Linked DNA regions of Homo sapiens: region 1 is linked to region 2. Evidence: fine-mapped QTL for protein levels in blood plasma. A gene starts in region 2. The other region holds a variant in brackets. All regions are shown on one strand. Distances are from middle to middle. Region 1 overlaps LMAN2 (lectin, mannose binding 2). Region 2 holds the start of F12 (coagulation factor XII).

The links. PIP is the posterior inclusion probability: the model's chance that the variant is causal. The UK Biobank Pharma Proteomics Project read protein levels with antibody pairs (Olink). The fine-mapping took linkage between variants from a reference panel, not from the people measured, so its PIPs are less certain.
Region 1: its variant is fine-mapped to the plasma level of the F12 protein (UK Biobank, PIP above 0.99).

What each region holds. Positions count from the first base shown.
Region 1 is chr5:177,343,130-177,346,042 of GRCh38, reverse strand. All of the region lies in intron 2 of LMAN2 (lectin, mannose binding 2), which reads left to right. Among named protein-coding and RNA genes, the nearest start is that of LMAN2, 7.1 kb to the left of the region's middle. The variant G/A (reference allele first, on the strand shown) is at 1,281.
Region 2 is chr5:177,408,401-177,411,313 of GRCh38, reverse strand. F12 (coagulation factor XII) reads left to right here and starts at 1,750. Exons shown (of 14, transcript NM_000505.4): 1 at 1,750-1,843; 2 at 2,211-2,268. The coding sequence starts at 1,787.

The DNA.
Region 1 (2,913 bases), 65 kb after region 2:
TAATCCCAGCACTTTGGGAGGCCGAGGCAGGCAGATCACCTGAGGTCGGGAGTTCGAGACCATCCTGGCCAACACGGTGAAACCCCGTCTCTATTAAAAATACAAAAATTAGCTGGGTGTGGTGGCGGGCGCTTGTAGTCCCAGTTACTCTGGAGGCTGAGGCAGGAGAATTGCTTGAACCTGGGAGGCAGAAGTAGCAGAGAGCTGAGATTATGCCACTGCACTCCAGCCTGGGCGACAGAGCGAGACTGTCTCAAAAAATAAATAAATAAATAAATAAATAAATAAATAAATAAATAAATAAATGCATGCCATGGCTGCTGCGAGCCTTCCTGACCAACTTGTTCCTCAGCCAGAGCAAACAGTGGTGAGGCAGGAGCAGGAGCGGGCAGACCACAGCTCTGCAGCGCCTGTGGCCCTGTCTTCCTGAAGGAGCAGAAGCTTGCTTTTGGTTAGTGTTTGCATGATACATTTTTCCTGTCCTTTTACTTTTTCCCATTTCTTTATGTTTTAGCGTTTTCTCTTATAAATGGTATATTACTAGGCTTCAGGGGTGTTGTTTTTATGTTGTAAATGCATATAACATAAAATTTACCACTTTAACCCTTTTTACCTTTAAATCCATTAATTTATGAAACTATTTTCTTCAGTAGGCTACACATTGACATTGAAAGAGTGGCTTTTTTTTTTTTTTTTTTTTTTTAGACAGGGTCTTAATCTGTCACCTAGGCTGGAATGCAATGGTGTAATCACGGCTCACTGCAGCCTCGGTCTCCTGGGTGTGATCCTCCCACCTCAGCCTCCTGAGTAGCTGGGACTACAGGCGCACACCACCATGCCTGGCTAATTTTTTTTTTTTTTTTTTGGTAGAAGTAGGGTTTCACCATGTTGACTAGGCTGGTCGTGAACTCTGGGCTCAAGCAGTCCACCCACCTTGCCCTCCCAGAGTGCTGGGATTACAGGCATGAGCCACTGCGCCCAGCCTGACAATGGCATTTAAAAGATGTCATGGCTATGTAAAAAAATGTTTCCACTGTTGTACGTACACATCTGCACATGCAAGAAAATTTCTCAAATCTTTCTTCCTTTTCTTTTCTCTTCTCTTCTTTCTCTTCTTTTCTTTTCTTTTCTTTTTTTGAGACAGGGTCTCACTCTGTTGCCCAGGCTGGAGTGCAGTGGCGCGATCTCGGCTCACCACAACCTCTGCCTCCCGGGTTCAAGTGATTTTCCTGCCTCAGCCTCCCTAGTAGCTGGGACTACAGGCGCCCGCCACCGCACCC[G/A]GCTAATTTTTGTATTTTTAGTAGGACGAGGTTTCACCATGTTGGCCAGGCTTGGTCTTGAGCTCCTGACCTCAGGTGATCTGCCTGCCTCGGCCTCCCAAAGTGCTGGGATTACAGGTGTGAGCCACTGCATCTGGTCAAATTTCTCAAATATTTCTATTGTGATAAAATGTATGTAACACAGGCTGGGCGCGGTGGCTCACGCCTATAATCCCAGCACTTTGGGAGACCGAGGTAGGTGGATCACGAGGTCAGGAGATCAAGACCATCCTGGCCAACATGGTGAAACCCCGTCTCTACTAAAAATACAACTAATTAGCTGGTCATGGTGGCGTGTTCCTGTAATCCCAGCTACTCAGGAGGCTGAGGCAGGAGAATTGAACCAGGGAGGCAGAGGTTGCAGTGAGCTGAGATCACGCCACTGCACTCCACCCTGGCGACAGAGCAAGACTCTGTCTCAAAAAAAAAAAAAAAAAAAAAAGTAACAAAGCGTACCATTTTAACCAGTTTTTAAAATTAAAAAAAAATTTTTTTTTTTTTAGAGATGGGGGGGGTCTCACTTTGTCACGGAGGCTGGAGTGCAGTGGTGCAATCCTAGCTCATTGCAGCCTCGAACTCCTGGAGTCCAGTGATCCTCCTGCTTAGTGTCCTGAGTAGCTGGGATTACAAGGCATGTGCTATTGTGCCTGGCTAATTTTTTTTTTTTTAATTTTTTGTAGAGCTGGGGTCTCACTATGCTGCCCCGGGCTGGTCTCGAACTCCTGGCCTCAAGCAATCCTCCTGCCTTGGCCTCCCAAAGTGCTGGGATTACAGGCGTGAGCTACTGCGCCTGGCCCATTTTAACCATTTTTAAGTGTACAGGTCAGTGGCATTAAGTGCATTCACATTGCTGTGTAGCCATCACCACCGTCTGTCTCCAGAACTCTTTGCTCATCCCAACTGAAACTCTCTACCCATTTAACAATCACTCCCATCCCCACAGTCCCTGGTAACCACCATTCTACCTCATCTCTGTAAATTTGACTATTCTAGGCATCTCACATAAATGATAAATGGAGGCATACAATATTTGTCTTCTTTGACTTATTTTACTGAGCATATGTTGAACGTTCCTCCATACTGTAGTATATGTCAGTACTGCATTCCTTTTTGTTGCTGAGTAATATTCGTGTGTGTGTGTGTGTGTGTGTGTGTGTGTCTAGACCACATTCCGTGTATTCATCTATTCGTAATGGACACTTGGGTTGTTTCCATCTGTTGCCATTGTGAATAGTGCTGCAGTGAACATTGGTATACAAGTATCTGTTTGAATCCTACTTTCAGTTCTTTTGGGTATATACCCAGGAAGTAGAATCTCTGGATCATACGGTCATTCTATTTTTACTTTTTTGAGGACTACCAAACGGTTTTCTGTAGCAACTGCACCATTTTATATTCCCACCAGCAATGCACAAGGATTCCAATTTCTCCACATCCTTGCCAACATTTGTTATTATTTATTTATTTATTGAGATGAAGTCTCGCCCTGTCGCCAGGCTGGAGTGCAGTGGCGCGATCTCGGCTCGCTGGAACCTCTGCCTCCCGGGTTCAAGTGATTTTCCTGCCTCAGCCTCCCGAATAGCTGGGACTACAG
Region 2 (2,913 bases):
TGGTGAGGATCAATGGGGGCTGTCTTTGAGGCTGTCTACCACAGCATCTTTCCATCCTTCCTGCCCTGTTTGCTTTGCTTTTCCTATGTGTAGGCTTCATTCTCAAACAGGCCCTCCCTAGAGAGTGACAAAGGTGATCATCAATGTGTTCAGACCCACATGCTCTGTGCTTAGTAACCCCAGTGCAACTTTTTTGCTTTCCCAAAAGTTCTGGCAAAAGTCCCAAGCTAGCACTTTAATTGGCCTAAATTGTGTATATGCTTATCTCTGAACCAATCACTGTGGATTAGAGATGTCATGCTCTGATTGACCAGACCTAGGCCACATCTCTAGCCCTAGCTCTGAGGGTAGAGTTGGCAGCACTAGAGCCCATGGAAGAAGTAAGAGAGGAGTCGTTGCTAAAGGAAAAATCAAAGTGTCATTACCGAACCAGGACAGATGCTGGGCAGCACATGTGCACCCCGTCTTCTTCTCATGTTCCAGCTGCACATCTTAGTGCCCCTTGGTTTAGCACTTTTCTCATTAAATCATTTGCTTTCTTGCCTCACTTCCTGTGGTTGGTAGAATGCTAAGATGGCCCCAAGATCTCTACCCCTGGTGTTTGCACACCTCCCAGTTATTCTGTCAAACATGAATGTAGATGCTTCTGTGAAAGAATTTTGCACATGTAATTTAAGTCCCAAATTGTTTGACCTTAAAATAAGGAGAATGGCAGGGCCAGGCATGGTGGCTCATACCTGTAATCCCAGCACTTTGGGAGGCCAAGGCGGGCAGATCACGAGGTCAGGAGATCGAGACCATCCTGGCTAACACAGTGAAACCCCATCTCTACTAAAAATACAAAAAATTAGCTGGGCGTGGTGGCGGGTGCCTGTATTCCCAGCTACCCAGGAGGCTGAGGCAGGAGAATGGCGTGAACCCGGGAGGCGTAGCTTGCAGTGAGCCAAGATCGTGCCACTGCACTCCAGCCTGGGTGACAGAGCCAGACTCTGTCTCAAAAAAAAAAAAAAAAAGGAGAATGGCTTTGGTGGGCCTGACCTAGTCAGGTGAGTTCTTAAAAGGCGACACATGGCCCGGTGCAGTGGCTCAGGCCTGTAATCCCAGCACTTTGGGAGGCCGAGGCGGGTGGATCACGAGGTCAGGAGATCGAGACCATCCTGGCTAACATGGTGAAACCCCGTCTCTACTAAAAAGACAAAAAATTAGCTGGGCGTGGTGGTGGGCTCCTGTAGTCCCAGCTACTCGGGAGGCTGAGGCAGGAGAATGGCGTGAACCCGGGAGGCGGAGCTTGCAGTGAGCGGAGATTGCGCCACTGCACTCCAGCCTGGGCGACAGAGCGAGACTCCGTCTCAAAAAAAAAAAAAAAAAAAAGAAAATTAAAAGTGGGTATTGTTGTAAGATGCTGAGTTTATGGTAGTTTGTTACATGACAATAGAAAATGAACACACTTCACAGTGGACTCCAAGATCCCCATGATCTTTGATCTCCTTAACCTCCTGATCTCCACAGGACCCAGAGCATAAGAATGTCCCTTCTTCTGCTTCCAGTCCCACTATCTAGAAAAGAGAGGAGGAGCCCAGCTCTTCATTTCACCCCCACCCACAAACTCCCAACTTTCCGGCCCTCAAGGGGTGACCAAGGAAGTTGCTCCACTTGGCTTTCCACAAACAGCCTGTGCCCCACCAGGCTCAGGAGGGCAGCTTGACCAATCTCTATTTCCAAGACCTTTGGCCAGTCCTATTGATCTGGACTCCTGGATAGGCAGCTGGACCAACGGACGGATGCCATGAGGGCTCTGCTGCTCCTGGGGTTCCTGCTGGTGAGCTTGGAGTCAACACTTTCGGTGAGTGCTGTGGGAACCAGGATTGTCCCAGGATTGTTCTGGGGGGTCGCTATCACAGCCATGAGCCATGGCCTCTGCTCATGACCTGTGGGTCCAGGTGACTAGGAGGCCTATGTGGAAAGGTGAGGCCAGCCCGGAAGGCCCAGGCAGAGGAGACAGACAACCAGACTGGGTGGATACAAGGGCACAGCCTGCATTTCTGGGGGAGATGGGCCTTAAGAAGACAACGGGGGGAGGTAGAAAGGGTTTGGGTCTTGGGAAGAAATCTCTGCATTTCTGGGCTGTGAGAGGAAGCTGCAGACTAGCAACAGATCGGTGGCAGGCTATGACTTATAGTCAGTTCCCTGCCTTCTTCTCTCCCTTGTAGATTCCACCTTGGGAAGCCCCCAAGGAGCATAAGTACAAAGCTGAAGAGCACACAGTCGGTAAGTGGCCTGGCTCCTCCTCCCGGGAACCCTTGGGTGGGGATGTGTATGGTGCAGTGTGTGCAGTCTCAGGGCAGTCTAGTCTAGTGCCTACCTGGTGCTAGGTCTTATGCCCATGGGCACTAGAGTGATCGTGAGCTGTGTGATCCTTGAGGGCAGGGTATGGGCTGTGTCTAAGTGCCCACGAGCCTGGCTCGGAGCAGGTGCTTGAGATATGTGCTGCTGGCGCCATCACACCTGGGCTCCTGCCAGCCTTCCTCAGTTTCCCCAGCTTCTCCCCTTCTTTTCCTTTCCCCAGTACGTCTCATGGGCATCATTCATGCCACACAGAGGCCAGGGCCTTCAATGGGCAAGGAAGGATCAAGAGCTTGTCTCTGGCATCTGAATGCCTCTGAAGCCCAGCTTTATCACTTATGAGCTGGGTGACTCTGGGCGAGGGATTTGAGTTCTCCAAGCTTCAATTTCCCCTTCTGTGAAACCAGGTTGATAACAGTAAACCTCTTAGGGTTGTTGAGAAGGGAAACCCATGTGAGGTATTCAGCCCATCACCTGGTGCATGGAAATGCTTTACAAATATTAGCTTTTATTATGAAACTACCTTTTAGATGAAGGGTACCTGCCATTTCCCCCTTCCTCAAGCTCTGC